Linked DNA regions of Homo sapiens: region 2 is linked to region 1. Evidence: fine-mapped expression QTL. A gene starts in region 1. The other region holds a variant in brackets. All regions are shown on one strand. Distances are between the middles of the regions. Region 1 holds the start of COL16A1 (collagen type XVI alpha 1 chain). Region 2 holds the start of LOC101929444 (a long non-coding RNA gene).

Region 1 (8,254 bases):
AAAAAAGAAAGAAAGAAAAAGAGAGAAAGAAAGAAAGAAAGAAAAGAAAAGAAAAGAAAAGAAAAGAAAAGAAAAGAAAAGAAAAGAAAAGGTATTACTGGCTGCCAGGTGGGAAGAAAGAAAGAAAAGAAAAAAGAAAAGAAAAGAAAAGGTCTTACTGGCCACCAGGTGGGAAGTAAGTGGGTGGTGGGGCCCCAAGGCAGCAGGCAGATCAGCTGGGGGCTCTTGCAACAGCCCAGCAGAAGATGATCATGGTCTGGGTGAGGGTTGCAGCTGTGGAGGTGGGGAGGAGTGGATGGACGTGGGCTGTATTTGGGGGGTAGAACTGACAGGATTGGATGGGGGTGGTAGGGAAAAGAAAGGAGCCAAGGTTTTCAGGTTTTTACCTGAGCATCAGAATGAATTATCGTGGCATTTAAAGGGATGAGGAAGTCAGGAAGGGCATATCTGTGAAGAGTAATCAATCATGTGTGATGTGTCTGCGTGTGAGCCCGTATGCGCATATGCCAGGGCCCAGGTGTGCACGTGTACATGTGGGGGTTCTGGTCCACTGTTCAAGCCTCAGAACTTTACACCATCTCTGCTTGAACGCGTGGGGGCTCCCGGACCTGTCCTGGGACCAGGCCCTGGGTTGGCTCTTCAACCTGCCCCAGCCCCAGGGGCTGCCCCTGCCAGACAGGGATTCCCCAGTGGGGGGCGGAGGGCCCTTGGGCACTGCCAACATCTGGGCATACTACCCCAGGTCCAGAAGGCCTTGGTAGCCCCATGCAGCAGCAGCATGCAGGCTCCAGGGCAGCTGGTGGTGATTAGCAGCATTGATTACCTCGTGGTGATGCCATCTGGGGTGAGGGCGCTGAGCCCAGCCTCACGGGATACCCGGGTTGCTGGCGTGCAGGGCTTTCTGGCACTGACTGCATGTAAAAGTGTCAGCACAGCTGCATGTATGCATGTGTGTACATGTGTCAGTGTGTGCATGTCCCAGTGGCTGTTTCTCTGGGAGCCGAGTCTGTGTGGCCATCTATGTCTGTGTGCACACATGTATGTGCTGCAGGTCTGCAGGCTTCTCTGCTTGCATATCTGAGTAATTATGCCTGTGGTCACATGTATGTTTATGTGCACACATGTCTATGTGTACAGGCATGTGTCTGTGTGTGCACATTCGAGTATATACAGTGCTGTATGCAGGCATTCTGAGAATTATGTACCTGTGTTTGGATATGTCCAGGGATATATTTCTGTGGGGTAATCTGGGCTCTTACATGTGTTTCTGTGTATCTTTGATGTGGAGGCGTATCTTGAGTCTCTACACATCTGTGTGTAACTGTTTCTAGGGCCAGGGTGTGTCTGTGTGAACATGAGTGCCTATACATGCATATGGAGTCTGCGTACTCAAGTGCTGTGCTAGAACTTTACCTGACTGCGTGTTTCTGGATGTGTGCACGTATGTGTGGAAGGGAGGAAGGGGCATGGGCACATTCCTAGACTGTCTATGATAGTGTTTCTAGGCGTAAGGTGTGTCCCAGGCTTGGCTGTTCCTGTGAGCACCCTTGGGGTGCTGTGGGAAGGCATCTGGCTCTCCCTTCTCAGGTTCCTCCATCCCTGGCCCAGCCACCTGCCCTGTCTGGGGCACGGGTGGGAGCTGTCAGGATGGCATGGTGGTTAAGAGCACGTGCTGAGTCTAGGCTGGCTGGACATGAGTTCTGCTCCACCACTGACTAGCTGTGGGATCCCGGGCAAGTTGTGTTTTTCCTGTGCTGCAGGTTTGGGAATAAAAATGGAATTCTGCCTTAAGGCGTTGTTGTAAAGATCGAAGGAGTTAGCATATGTGAAGTTCTCAGCACAGAGCCTGACCTATATGCGCTTCCCACCTCTCCCGAGTGCCCACTGCTGGGGCAGCACCCTCTGGTAGGGCAGGCGGGGCCTGTGCCCACCCACCCCGCAGGCCAGAGTGCTCAGAAGGCCCCACCCCCTCCGCTTCCCGCCTGCTGAGCTCAGCACTTCCCAGGCCCCACCACTGCCACAGCCACATCTGGGGCCAGCTCCTCACTGGGACCACAGTGGGGCGCCTCTGTGGCGTGGTTGGGGTTTCCGCTGACTCAGCGCCTCTGGGTCTGGAGGCGGGAAATCCCAGGCCTGCCCCTACAACCTCCCCCTACCCCGGGTTAGCCGAGGCCACAGGGCTAGGCGCGTTGCTTCCACAGAGCCCCCAGAGCCCCCCTCAACTGGGGACGCTCAGTTTCTCCCTCTTCAGCCCAGCATCTCATGGCCTCTTGAACCTACTTTGTGGATCCTCAGCCTTGGTGCCAATAAATTTGCTTTCGGTCTACAGCGGGAGGAGACCCTTGGTGGGGATTCCACCTTGGTCAACGGCCCTGCCTCTGGGCAGAACTCGGAACATTACCGGCTCCTTCCTCCTCAGAGCTCCAATCTTTCAGCCCAGCTCAATTCCTCTTGCGTCCTTGGACCGTGAATATAAAGCAGGTCCCTCCCCAGTGCTGGTGTAAAGGCTTGAAATCCAGTCCCGTCCCCTGCCAGGGATCACAGTAATAACGATAATAGCAGCAAATATTTACTGAGCTCCTCTCATGTGCCAGACCGTGTGCTAAGCGCTTACAGCCTTTGGCCCATTTCCTGCTTACAGCAAAGGTCTATGAGGCATATACTCTCACGATCCCATCTTCCAGATGAGAAAACGGAGTATGGTTACACAGCACATTTGGAACCGCAAAGCCAGAGCAGGGGCCAGGGATTTGAGCCCTTCCAACCTCATGGAGTAAGGAGGAATAAGGGGACTCCCTCAGTCTCACTTCTCTGGGAGTCAGGCCAGAGCAGAGGGGGTTAATTTAGCACGGAGGAGGGAGGGGGTTCCCACCCTCCTCCTCCCAGTACAGACAGACCTAGGGACAGACTGACTGGGAATGTTAGGCAGAGGAATTGGAAAAAGCTGACCACCGAGGCTTGGGCGGCAGCCACATCATGGGTGCCACGCACTTGGGAGGAGGGTCTCTACCCTGCTCCCTCCACCCCTGTCCCCTCCCCGCCCCCCCACCCCGCAGCCTTCTGGGGGCCCAGCCAGGGACATGGAAAGGGGGAGCTCTTCAAACTCCAGGCCTGACTCTTAAAGGGCCCGCAGGAGCCCCCTTCCAGGGCAGCTCTGGGCACGTAGGGTCCCGCCTAGCTCGAGGATCGCTCACCTGGCGGTGAGGCAGGAGGGGCGGGCCTGGGAGCTCGGCCAGACCCGGGGCGGGGCTGTGCACCCCGCAGTCTAGCCGCCTCTGGTGCCGCTGGAGCCCCCTCTAGGCCCTCCTCCTCCTCCTCCCTGGCGGGCCGGTCCAGCTGTGTTCCATTAGTGTCCCTGGCAGGCCCCCAGCCCCCTGGAACCGCCTCTCTTCCCCCACCCGGAGTGGCCGGCAGTCCCCGGCAGGCGTGCGCCGGGCAGCAGACAGCCGGGAGAGCTCGAGCGCCAGGAAGCTGGGGACCCGTGACCGTCACGGAGAGATAGAGAACCCCTAGCGGACCTGAGGAACCTGGGCTCTGCTTCCTCCGCCTGCTGCCTGGACTGCTCAGTGAGGTGGGGGGATCCCCGGCCACCGGTAAGTAGGGATACAGTGGGCGGCCTCAGGGCTCTGGGCTGAGAGGCCCTTTCTGCCAGACTTGCTGTGTGACCTGAGGAAAGTGGCATTCCCTCTCTGGGCCTTGGTCGTCTTCTCTAGAGCGAGATGAGCTCTAAACTCCATCCTGGTTCTGACTCCCTGCGCCCAAATCTATGCCTCTGTGTTGGGGTGAGCCGTCTCCTTGGAAGCTTCTCTGGCTCTGTCCTTGCAGCCCTGCACTCTGGCTGGAGCCTGAGGAGTGGCGACCAGAGACTAGGAGCCGGAAGGGGACAGGATCACATCCATCCTCACGCCTCCACATGCACCCACATGGCGCCACAGCTGGCAGCCCTTCTATTGGCTGGCAGGAGGAAGACCAGGATAGGGTTTGAGAGCTGGGATGTGTATATCACTAGGATGGGGGATGAATAGGCAGGCTGGGGGCACAGTTCTGTCCCAGGGAGAAGGGGGCTGGAGTCCTATCTCCAAATATATTGGGGTAAGGGGTCCTTTCTGTTTTCATTTCCTATCCATGATTGAGGGAAGGAAAATTGGATTTCATTAGAGTTGGAAGGAATGCAGTCAGACTTGCATTAGAACTTCCCAACAGGAAGACCTACAGGAGGAGTGGTCATAGGCTGGCTGTGCGCATGTGGGTATATGCAAGCTGGTGTGTCTGGGTATATCAGCGAGCATATGTTTCCGTGAGCATGCCTGTGTGCAGATAGCTTTGTATGCACACTGGTACCACATATGTGTCCTTATGTACATGTACCTGCGCATCTGCATGTGCTGTGCTGACACATGCATGGCTCTGTGTTTGTGCACGTGAGCTGCCTGTCCTGGGGGAGGCCAGACGATGTATGGCTCTGCTGGCCACTTGCTGAGCCTGCATCGATTTATCTGGGCCCATCCATCAGGGTTTAATAAAACTAAAAGACAAGCATCCATCAGCTGGGGGCGGGGGTGGCTGGCAATGAGGTCCTGAGCCCTAGAGACCTGCTCTCCTGCCCACTATACCTATGGGGAAAGCTTCCTTGGCCCCCACACAGCCCTATGGAAGGCTGTGGCCCACAATCTCAGCCCAGTCACCAGCCCCTGACCCTGTGGGTGCCTGGGAGGGCTTCCTGGGCTGAGCTGGGTGCGCTAGTAAGGTATCAGGCTGGTATATATACCAGGACAGTGCACAAGATGCTAGACTTGAAATACTTCCACGTGTCTTGAAGAATAGCCTCTTCTTTAAGCCCTCATCACTATTCCAACTTCTCTGGCCTTCTAAGACCTTCTAGACCTCTCCCAATCCAGCAAGTATCCACTGGCACAGCCAGATGCTGCCTGGACACTATTTCAGTGCAGTAGGCAGCTTTCTGCTTTGCCTGAAAGCTGGTATCCGTGCCATACCGGTGGTTAAATATTTTGAATATCGCCTCTGCTCAAATCCTAGCCCAAGGGCTGTGGTTGGGCCTCTGAGAGAGACTGATGCCTGGCCAGACCTCCTGCCACCCCAATACCAGTGCCTGGGCCCCACAGGCTGTCCACGACTTGCCCACGTGTGGAGTTGTGCTGTGTGAACTCAGAAATCCGCCTTCCCGGTCTCTGTGGTTTTCAGGTGCTGTGGCTGTAGCTGACCTCTTTGGACCGGGATGTGGGTATCCTGGGCTCCTGGCCTGTGGCTGCTCGGTCTTTGGGCTACCTTCGGCCATGGGGCAAATACAGGTGAGATGACACAGGAGAGTCACAGTATCACAGGCCTGCAACTGGTATCCTGGGGTGCTGGGGTCCTTGCACATATGTGACCATGTATGTGTGGTCGTGTGGGCAGTTATAGCAGAGTCTAGGGGCTGGGCTCAGGGTGATCTGAGGTGTTGGCACCCTTGAGCCTGTGTGCAGTGAGCTGGAGAGTGTGTGTGCCTGTGTCTTCGTACGTTTATGTCTCTGAGCATCTCTGTGTTTGTCTCTCAGACTGGCTTTGTGCATTCGTATGTATTCCTGTGTCTCTGTGTGTAAGAGAACAACCTCCCACCCCAATACGTAAGCCAATCCTGTGGACACATTGCTGGTAGGACCAGTGGGGTGGGGAGGAACAGGCAGTGAGCTCTCCCTGCAGAAGGACGCCGCCTCCCCAGAGAACCCCAAGTCCTGCTGATCCTTTTCATGGTGGAGACTCCATCCCTCTAGCTCACGTGCTTCTCCTCCTCCACGGCTGGCCCTGAATCTCTAATAAAAGGCCCACCCCGAGGCCCAGACTCTGGATGAGACAGAGGGTGCAGCTTTCCAGGGCCCAAAGCCAGGGGAAGTTGACCGGGCAACTTGCCTGGCCTTGCTGGGTGCCCTCTGGGCTCAGTAGCTCAGCTGCTTCGCCAAGCAGGAACAGAACTCCTAGGACCCAAACCCAGCTAGGAAAAGCAGAAAAACCAAGAAGCTGAGGTGAAAGGGATTGTGGACCCAGGGTGAGTGTGGCCGCCTGCCCCTTGTATGTGCACATATGTGTTTCTGCTTGTGTGTGCGTGAGCTTTGCTCTCCTCTCCCTCACTGGGTCCCCTGGGGGGGATGGGGCAGATAATTTCAACATCTGTAAGGAATCTGGGCCCATTGCCAAGGGGTGAGTCACCCATTGCTGCTGTGATGCTGAAGACAGTGATGGTCTTTCTGACCAGACCTGGGGGAGGGAGAGTGCAGTGGGGTCATTGGCACCGGGCCCCAGGGCCCCAGGATTCCTTCTTCCAGCCAGTCTAGCCAGAGAGTGCAAGGCCAGCTTCTAGGAGCTGTCTTCACCGTCTTCTCCCACCTATCCCTCTGCATTGATGAGAAGGCCTTTTTGATTCTGGCCTCTGTCTTTCCTGTTGTAGCACCTCCCCCAACACTTCTGCTCAGTCAGCCCCAGGGCGAGGGAGGCCCATGGCTGCCCACCTGTTCTTTCAGGGCTTTGGAAACCTGAGTTAAGCTATCTCCTTCTCTGGGAGCCCTAACCCATTAATATGCCCTTCCTGGAGCTCCAAGGCCCTGGTGGTACCCTTGAGCTTGTGGTCCCCTCAGACCCTCAGTCTCTTCTCGCTGTTTCACAAGGTGGTTATTCAGGTAAATATTCATTCTGTTGGCTCCTACTTGTGTCTGGCCTGCTTGTCTGATTTGGATGTAGGACGTTCCTATTGCTGAGAACACGTGTGCCAGCTGCACATGTCATCCCTCGTGGCATGGGCACCTACAACTCCCACATGTACAGACACGTACATATAATTGTACATAACACACAATGTGCATGATTCTGACATTTCCTTACCCCTGAAGAGCTCCTCTGCCCCCCACCTGGGTGTATGTCATGGAGGGGGCACATGTGTAAATACACAGCTCCCCACTCCATCTGTGCTCGAGAGCCACCTAGAGCTTCGTGTATTCTCTCCCTTGCTGGCCTAGCTCCTGACTTGGAGTGCTGGGAGATTTGGGTTCCTGGAGTTCTGGGCCTGCTCTGCTGTTGGCTCACTTAGTGACCTTGGCCTGGGCCTCAGTCTCTGGACCTCAGTCTTCCAAACTGTATGCTGGGTTGGGGGCCTCCAGGCTTCCTGGGGAGCCAGGGTCAGAAGGCAGGTGGTGAAGGCAGGATCTAGCTGATGGTCCAGAGTGAGGACTATAAACTTGCTCCCTCCCAGGTTCCCCAGGCGTCCAGCCGTGCAGCAACCTTGGCCTGAGCGCACCTAATGCCCCCCTGCCCCTTCTCTTCTAGGTGCACAATGCCCACCTTCACAGCAGGAAGGACTCAAATTGGAACACAGTAGTAGCCTGCCAGCCAACGTGACTGGTGAGCACCCAACCATCTCATCGCGCCGTCCCTGCAACCTTCCTCTGGGAGTGATCTGTACCCCTCTCCACCTGCTCAGCTGAGCTCTTCACCTGATGTCTCCCCCAAAGGCTTCAACCTCATCCACCGACTCAGCCTCATGAAGACGTCTGCCATCAAGAAGATCCGCAACCCCAAGGGGCCTCTCATCCTGCGCCTGGGGGCGGCCCCCGTGACCCAGCCCACGCGGTAAATGCATCCATGTGACCACTGAGAATCAACACTGACCTCAGCCACACTCCTCAGCAACTCCAGATGTGGGGCTTAAGCCCAGGGGCCTGTCTGTGGGTCATTGCATCCCAGCCCCTGCCAGGAGTCAACCTGGTCTCCACCCCTGGGCTTGCAGGGTGGGCTGAGAGGTGGTACCTGGCAGACCTACCTTCTGTCTTTCCCCTGTCTCTGGCCAGCAGTGGGTGGGAACAGGTCTGCATCCTGTGGGCACTGTGAGAACACAGGATGTGGGCGGGAACCTGGCAAGAGTCATGTGCGTGTGTGCATGTGTGTGTGTGCGCACATGCGTGTGTGTGCACCCATGTGTGTGAAGTCCAAATTCCCACAAGCCCTGGCCTGGCCCCTGCTTGCCTCTTCAACCTCAGCTCTCAAAATGCTCTTTTTTATCTCTTGCTGCTCTGGTCATGCTGAACCCTTTCCATCTTTTTTTCAGTATCTCTCCTTCCACCCTTGCTCCAGTTATTCACCTAGGGTATTCTGGGTTCATTGGAAGCACTTATTCAAATTGCAATGCGATAGCGAAATAGTCATTCTGGGGATTCTTTGCTCATGGCCTCCCTGCCCCCATCAGACGTGAAGGCTCCATGAAGGCAGG
Region 2 (8,382 bases), 30 kb after region 1:
ACAACAGGTAGAACATTTAGTTCTGAGAGGTCAGGAAAACAATTACAAAGTATCAGGCTTGAACTATCACACTGGCCCTGGAGAGGGGAGCAAGGGATGAATAATGATTTAAGGCATAATAATTAACATGTTCGGGCCAGGCGTGGTGGCTCACGCCTGTAATCCCAGCACTTTGGGAGGCCAAGGTCGGCAGATCACTTGAGGTCAGGAGTTCGAGACCAGCCTGGCCAGCATGGCGAAACCCCGTCTCTACTAAAAATACAAAAAGAATTAACCGGGTTTTGTGGTGCATGCCTGTAATCCCAGCTACTCAGGAGGCTGAGGCAGGAGAATCGCTTGAACCCAGGAAGCGGAGGTTTCGATGAGCTGAGATTGCACCACTGCACTCCAGCCTGGGCGACAGAGTGATACATCTCAAAAATAATAATAATAATAATAAATAAAAAATAATAATTGACATGTTCAAGGCATTTTCCCTGTGCCAGGCACTGCTCTAAGCCCTGATGGTGCACAGAGGTGCCAGGGGGCCTGGATGGTGGCTGGCTCCGGGTCTGACCCAGGCCTGGTAGAGCCTGCCTGGAAATTGCTCGGGGGCTGGTGATATGTTCCATTGCTGGGAGCTGGGACTTGAAGGAAGGCCAGATCTCAGAGTGCGCCAAGGAAATCCTGTGCAGGGAGGAGCAGGCTGAGCAGCGGTGCATTCACTCAACACGTACTTACTGCACATCTCCTCCATGTTGGGTGCTGGGGATTCAAAATGGAACATACTCCCTGCCTCCATGGAGTATTTAATATGCAAATGTGCCTCACGAATCTGCAAGGGGAACATTGTCCGGGTGGCATGGATTTAATGTAAACATCGTTGCAGCCATTGTCTCCTTGAAGCCTCACCATAAACTATCCCTGTTTTATAGATAAGGCAACTGAGGCATAGAATTTTTTTCCCCCAAATAAATTGCCAAAAGTTATACAGGTAGTCAGAATTTTGTATCTAGATGAATCTGACTGGCAAGTACCCACCCTTGCTGTGTACATGAATGTTCTGGGGATGTCTGTTGAGGAATGATGCTAGAATTGTGGTTAAGAGAGGGGTTAGAAGCCAGTGATCCTTGCTCTGGACCTCAGCTCTGTGCCTTGCTCAACTTGTGACCTTTGGCAAGTTACTTACTCCTCTGGGTTCTTTTTTTTTTTTTTTTTTGAGACGGAGTCTCCCTCTGTTGCCTAGACTAAAGTGTAGTGGCGTAATCTTGGCTCACTGCAACCTCCATCTCCCAGGTTCAAGTGATTCTCCTGTCTCAGCCTCCCGTGTATCTGGGACCACAGGCACACACCACCATGCCCTGCTAACTTTTATATTTTTAGAAGAGACGGGGTTTCGCCATGTTGGCCAGGCTGGTCTCGAATTCCCGGCCTCAGGTGATCCGCCCACCTCGGCCTCCCAAAGTGCTACGATTGCAGGTGTGAGTGACCGTGCCCAGCCTCCTCTGGGTTCTTTGTGCTATTTTTAAGATGGAGATAACAGCACCTAGTTCAACAAGATAGCTGTGATGATTAAACGAGAAAATAGGCTGGGTGTGGTGGTTCACGCCTATAATTTCAACATTTTGAGAGGCTGAGCGGGGAGGATCACTTAAGCCCAGAAGTTTGAGACCAGCCTACCAGCGAGACCTGGTCTCTATAATAAACACAAAAGAATTAGCCAGGCATGGTGGTGAGCGCCTCTAGTCCCAGCTACTCAGGAGGCTGAGGTGGGAGAATCGCTTGAGCTGAGTTTGAGGCTACAGTGAGCTATAATTATGCCATTGCACTCCAGCCTGGGTGACAGAGTGAGACCCCGTCTCTACAAAGAAAAAAAGAAAAAAGAAAAGGAAAGGAAAAAGAAAGAGAGAAAATATAGAAAAACGACTTAGCACAGAAATAAACAGTAGTTCCATGGAAGACCCTCTGCTCAATTTCTGACCTTCCCTCTGATGTGGGGGGAAAACACTTGCTGTTGGACGGTTTGGGGGGTCGCTCTTCTGGGCCTCCCTGGCTTTCCCTATAAGGGTCGAGAGGCTTTTGAGCTAAGAATAGATGTCAGCCTTGTGCCAGCCAGGGCTCTCAGCTCTGCAGGACAAGGGGAAGAGGAGGCGGGGATGATGAGAAGGAAACAGGCTGACCAGCAGGCTAGAGAGATGGAGCCCACTCACTCGTGTCTCTTCTTGGCTACAGGGAGTGCCTGGAAACAACGGTTTGCCAGGACAGCCTGGGCTCACTGCAGAACTGGTGGGTACTGGCCAGGACTCCCTGTGCATGCCCCTTCCCTGCCCTTCCCAGGGCTGCTCAGGCTATGAAGCTGGCCCGGTAGCTGCAGTGGGGGTCCCTCTTCTCTCCCACTTCTGAGGCTGGAAGGTGCATGACGTGTCCCAAGGCTCTCCCTGATCCCATAAGTCTCCATGTTCCTTCCCCTCACCTGCTTGAGCCCACACATCTGTCTCTTGCAGGGATCCTTACCAATTGAACAGCACCTCCTTAAGGTAAGAGGGTACCCAGGAGGGAAGTGTGAGCTGGCGGGGGTGTCTCCTAAGGGGATTCTCTTAGTAAGTGCTCAGCTGTGTGGCACCTCGCAGAGAGAGCAGCAGTTTGCAGGGAATACGCATTCCAAGCATCTGTCTAAGAGGGCCTAGCTGATGCCTGGCTTGTAACAGGCCCCCAGGCAACATTTGCTGAATGAGTGCTTAAAGGAATCCTGTGAAGGTGCCCACATGGCAGATGCTGTCGGCAGAACCCAGCCCTGAAGCCTGCCCGCAGCAGCTGGCAATGAGACCCCGTAGCACCCGGGTCACCCTGCGGCAGAGCCCAGCAGCTTCCAAAGCAAAGCAGAGGGGGTGAAAGTGCAGTGGTGGGGGGCTGTGAGATTGGGTGTGGCCTGGAAGAAAGCTTCAGCTGTTCTCTAGTCAATCCAGAAAGAATCCAGGGAGGAGATGGATTTGAGAAGCACTTCTGGTAGTCTAAGAAAGGGGACTTCGGACCTGGTCAGAGGGTCGGCCTGTGCCAGGGCCTGTACACAGCCTTAATGCTCTACCAGAGGGCTGTGGCCTGGGCCGGCTTCCCAAACTGAGCAGAAGTTCCTATTGGAATCAAGAGTCACATAGCCCATCTTTGCTTAGTCACCTCTAGAAACGAGAGCACAGTAATTCCCCAGGTTGCCTTCAGGTTTTTGAAGGAGGCCCTTATGTTCCTGGACTTTCTCTCCTCTAGCCCAGCATCCTCAGGGGTCTTTCCCATGTGTTGGCCTCCAGAGCCCCCCCTCATCCTGGCCACCCTCTTCTGACACTGGCTAATTAGTGCCCTGGACATCCCATGACCCCGATGGGCCTTGGTCAGGGCAGAGCATGGGGGCTGTCTACCCCTTCCCTGCTCTGAACGGCAGATTTCTCCAGAAGCAGCCAGAGGAGGTCGGGGTAACCTCTTGGCATCAGTTACATGTTGGATCACAGTGAGGTTGTGGCAACGAAACCCCCAGCTCTTCTCCCCTCTGCTTCTGTCAATGACTGGGCAGTGATCGTGTGACTCCAAATCCAGGATTTGACATTTCTCCTGTAACATTTCATCTGTTGGCTTCTTCATCAAGTGCTCTTCAGAGGATTCCAAATAGAAAGTGCGCATAGTGTGGAGAAGGGGTCAGATGGCACCCCGGGGCATGCTGACCCAGAGCCCCAGCCACCACCTGCACCCATAGTCCAGGAAGCCTGGGGAGAGAGCACTGGCTGTGGCCTAGGACAGGCCCACGCCAATCCAGGCTCCCACTTTCCTTAGACAAGTCACGCCGCCTCTCTTGAGTGGGCTTTCCCATCTCCACAATGCTTATAAGATTCCCTGTCTCACTGCGCCGTCAAGATGGCATGTGATAATGTGCAGGGCTTATTATGTACAATGCCCAGCGTCATGGGTGCTGAGTAAATGCCAGTCGTTATTACTGGGCTTGGTGGTGAGCAGTGAAAGTGAGCAGGGGCTCCTGCCTGGGCATCTGTGGACACGACACTGGCCACAAACAGGCTCCGGGCTCCTGAGTCCTCAGAAATTGCAGGCTGGTTTTCACTAGTGGGTTTGATTTTTCTGAGAAAAGGACCCATAGCTTCCATCAAACTCTCAGAGGGGTCTGTGACCCAAAGAAGGTTAAAGCCCTTCCTGTGGGGAAGACAATTCTGGTGGCGCGATCCGAGCCAGGAGCCTGTGAGCAATCTGAGATCTGTCCCAGGGGCTCCTGGGAAGGGCCTGGCTCCTCCCGCAGCTGTTCCTTTGCTCCCTTGGGCAGAGAAGCTGGCGTTCGGAGCCAGCCTTTCCAGCCTCACTCCTCGTGGCTTGTCCTCGCAGTGGGTGCAGGTTGCAGGAACAGCCGGGACAGATGGTCCCTCTGCGGGCCCCTCGCCTCCACCCACATGCCTGTC[T/C]GGAAAGTGGCTTTGGCTTAGCTGTACCAGAGCTTCTTCCTGGAGGAAACTCAAAGCCAATTGTTGGGAGTGGGTCCCCCGAGGATGGAGCAAAGCTGCCGCAGGGATGCGGCTGGGGAGGGAGGGAGTGTGGGAGGAGGGAAGACGGCAGGGCAGGGAGCCCTGGCTCTGGGTTCTCACTGGGGCTCCCCAGTTGGCCCATCCTGCCCATCTCTAACCCAGGCCCCACTCCTCTCCCCACTCCCTGATCAGAGTATCTGCGGGGACTGTGTCCAGGGGCAGAGGGCCCACCCAGGGTACCTCGTGGAGAAGGGAGAGAAGGGAGACCAGGGCATCCCTGGTGTGCCAGGCCTCGACAACTGCGCCCAGGTAAGGGACTGGGCTTGGGGCTGCCCTATGCAGGAGGGTTCCCTGGCTGCCTCATCAGACAATGTGCCTCTCATTGTCCCTTGCAGTGCTTTTTGTCACTGGAGCGCCCAAGAGCCGAGGAGGCCCGGGTGAGTGCCTCGCCTTATCTCCCCCGATCATGCCCCATGCCCCACAGGGACAGGCCCTGACTGCTCACTATCACCGTCTCCATCCTTCTCCAGGGTGACAACAGTGAGGGAGATCCTGGCTGTGTTGGGAGCCCAGGCCTACCTGGTCCTCCGGGATTGCCAGGCCAGAGAGGAGAAGAGGTAAGACCAGGGATGGGGATTCATCCTCAAGGGAGCTGGGGCCCTGTCTGCCTTTGAGACCTCTTGGGGGCCTCCGAGGCCTCACCTGACTGATGCCCTTTACCACTCTGGGCTCATCTGCTCTCCTGGCACGTGGCTTCTCTGGGATACACAGGACCCAGCGTAGGACACACTCTTTCTCCCCAGTGCCCAGCTGCATCCTCTGCCTGCAACGCTCTTCTCCAGGGCTTATTCCTGCACTCCTTCAGCTCGGCTCAAATGTCTCCTTCTCAGAGAGACCTCCCCTGACCACCCTCTTTAAAATTGAACTCCACACCAACCCCAGAGCCTCCAGTCCCCTTGGCCTGCATCATACTCATCACCATCCAACATCCTGCCTATTTACTTCATTCAGGAACATTCTACAGGTGTCAGCTCAACACCAACTATGTGCCAGCTCCTGTTCTATTTGTTAGTGTCCGTCTCTCCCCTAGAATGTAACTGCTTTGAGGCAGGGGTTTTTATTTATTTTGTTTATGCTGTGATCCTAGCCCCTGGACTAATGCCTGGTACGTAATAGTTGCTTGTTAAATGTTTGTAGGATGACCGAATGGGCCAAATGAAAGATTGTTCGAACATCAGCTAAGTGGTCCTGCTTGGACAGCAGCCACCCTCTGTTGACCTTGGCCCTGGCAAGCTGGGAGGAAGGCTGCTGGAATCCCAGGGGCTCTATGGGGCCTGGGCCTCTTCATCCATTTCCCTTGGCTTCCTTTGCAGGGTCCGCCTGGCATGAGGGGCTCCCCGGGTCCTCCAGGCCCTATCGTAAGTATCAGTGGTGCCCTGGTCTGCTTGAGAAGCTCTCAAAGGGGTCATTACACTCAGACACCATCCCGCGGCCTTGTCCCCAAAAGGCTGGGCAAGGCAGGAGGAGGGAACTTCCACTGCCCTCCCCATCCCTCCGCAGAGCATCTGCAGGGACTGTGCTCTCCCACCACCGGATGCCCTGGAACCGCCCTGCTCTGCCTACTGCCTGCGGTCCTGCTTAGGGGAGGTCCTCAGAGGCACCTCTTTGCTTCCCTGTCCCCACCCTCTGCTGCGCTTTCCACAGTGGCCCCAGGCCGCCCTCGGCAGGGGGCCTAGGCTTCAGGCTCACAGCCTCCCAACCAGGGAAGCATGCGGCATGCTGGCCAGACCTCTCCATGCCCCTGTGACTCCAGTCCCCACAAGGGCTCGGGGCTAAGATGGAGCTGTCCTCCATTGCTCTGTAGGGCCATCTCTAGGGTAAATCTACAAAAACCAGACCAGGGTATCTACTCTGGAGTCCTCTGTGATGTTGACATGGCAGGAAAATAGAAGTGACTAGGAAAGATTGAAAGAACTGAAAATGCTTTCTCTGGAGAAGAAAATGGCTGGTGGGAGCTGTCTTAGAGCCAGGGAGCCCCCCACTCGGGGGACAGGTGGAGGTCGGGTGGCAGGCATGGTGGGCAAGGCTGAAAGAAATGGGCTTCTGCTGCAACCGGATCTTCAGTTAGACTCCGGAAGACTCAGGAAGCCCTCTGACTCTGGAGCCATTCCGCATCTCCGTCAACGGAGGAGCCATTCTTCCTGGAGCCAAGGGGAGGAACAGTTGTCTTTTGAGCCAAGACTTTCAAGGAGTCTCTTTTCCAGCTGCCTTGAAAATACTCCCATGACCTCCTCTCCCCATGACCCCCAAGCCCCAGACTGTGCCCTCCAGGCTGTCCCAGGGTTACTGTGCCTGTGAGATGTGACCTGCCTGTTTCTCCCACCAGGGCCCCCCAGGTTTTCCTGGTGCTGTTGGCTCCCCCGGATTGCCTGTAAGAACCTAGCGCTGCTCGACCTCCCCTCCCCCCCGTCAGCCAGGTCTCTGTGGCTTTTGCTTGTCTCCCTCCTGTCGTGCCTTCACCTCCGTCCTCCGTGTTTGTTGTCCCCCTTCAGGCACGGTAGCTAACGACACGGGTTCTCTGAGGTCCCGGCAGCTTGGACATCCTCCCAGTCTCTGACTCCTTTCCGTTTTCTCCTCTCCCTCCTCTCCTGCGTTCTTTCTCTCCTCTTCTCTCTCTTACCCCGTTCTGTCTTCCTTCTCCATTTCTCGCACCATCTTGCAGCACTCCCCCAAGTCCTCCTGAGCTCGTGAACCTTCCTCTTAAGCTGGTGCCTCTAGGGGGCCCCTCCATTCCTGCCTTCTCGCTCTGCCTCCTGCTTCTCACCACCTTCGGCGTTGCCTGAAGATTTGCTGAAAGTAGTTCTTGGGGCCCTGCCAGGCACCTGGCTCAGAGCCCAGCAGAGATGCCAAAGCTTTAGGGCTTCACATTGCAGGCTGGCACAGGTTTGCTGCCCTGCTGCTTGGCAGGGCTGTCCAGAGGCACCCAGGGATTTAAAGGCAGCCCTTCCTGCGCCTTTTCCGTCGTCCTAGAGGAAACTCTCAGCTGCCTCCTCTTCGCTTCCTCTTCCTTGGCTCCAGTCCCAGTCTGCTCCAAGGCGGGGCATGTGATATCAGCCAGTTGGGTTTCTGGGTGTCGTGCGGCCCTGCCCCTCTGTGCCCGGCACCTTGGCCGGCTCCTTCTGCCAGGTGTCGTTAATTGCTCTGCCTTCGTCATCGTCACAGGTGTGTTTACATCACCCCCAGCCTCATTGTTGCTCCCTCCTGGGTCACGGAAACTAACCTCCTGTTTGTCAGGTTTTGTGTTCCTGGGGCCTGGCTCCTCTCCTCCCAGGCCTGGTGATGGAGGCTCAGGGAGCAGGGCCCCTCCTCGTCACAGTTCCATCTGTCCCCACGTCCTCATCTGTGGCCGGGCCTTGTCTGTTTCTGCTTGCTTGGGTGAAGGGGCCATCTGTCCGTCTAGCCATCTGTCTTATGTCATGGAAAGGTTTGGGCGTCATCTCTTGAGGGGATGAGGGAGAAGGGGGCAGGAAAGGTGCCCTTAATGGCATGGCACCTGCAAAGGCTGGGGTAAGGAATTAGGGGTGGGGGCTGTAGCTCTCGTGGAAAGTGACATGCCCTCTCACCCTACAAAGTGACAGGGACTGCTCTGGAGGCAGCCTTCCTGTGTCTCTCCCCTGCCTCCCTCCAAGAAAGTGATTTTTGCTTGGGGTGGGGGACTTGGACAGGTAAGTGTTGGGTATCTGATGATATGATACACTTTGGTGGCAGCATCCATCTGGGGTACCTCTCCTGACAGTTGCCCCTCAGAATAAGCACACATCTGATCCATCACCTTCCTAAAGGTGTACGCCAGTCAGTTACCATGGCAGGGCATACCAGCGACGGGCACCTG

Evidence for each region. PIP is the estimated chance that this variant, and not a neighbour inherited with it, causes the effect.
Region 2: its variant is fine-mapped to the expression of COL16A1 in cerebellar hemisphere (GTEx, PIP above 0.99). The same link has a PIP of 0.9 or more in cerebellum.

What each region holds. Positions count from the first base shown.
Region 1 is chr1:31,699,176-31,707,429 of GRCh38, reverse strand. It overlaps COL16A1 (collagen type XVI alpha 1 chain), which reads left to right and starts at 3,413. Exons shown (of 71, transcript NM_001856.4): 1 at 3,413-3,593; 2 at 5,203-5,309; 3 at 7,315-7,389; 4 at 7,500-7,617. The coding sequence starts at 5,237. RefSeq lists a silencer at 1,943-1,992 and enhancers at 5,302-6,054, 7,561-8,254.
Region 2 is chr1:31,669,141-31,677,522 of GRCh38, reverse strand. It overlaps COL16A1 (collagen type XVI alpha 1 chain), which reads left to right. Exons shown (of 71, transcript NM_001856.4): 43 at 2,212-2,265; 44 at 2,484-2,516; 45 at 4,683-4,799; 46 at 4,886-4,927; 47 at 5,021-5,107; 48 at 5,864-5,908; 49 at 6,877-6,921. LOC101929444 (a long non-coding RNA gene) reads right to left here and starts at 7,719. Exons shown (of 2, transcript XR_001737631.2): 1 at 7,171-7,719; 2 at 6,456-6,691. The variant T/C (reference allele first, on the strand shown) is at 4,431.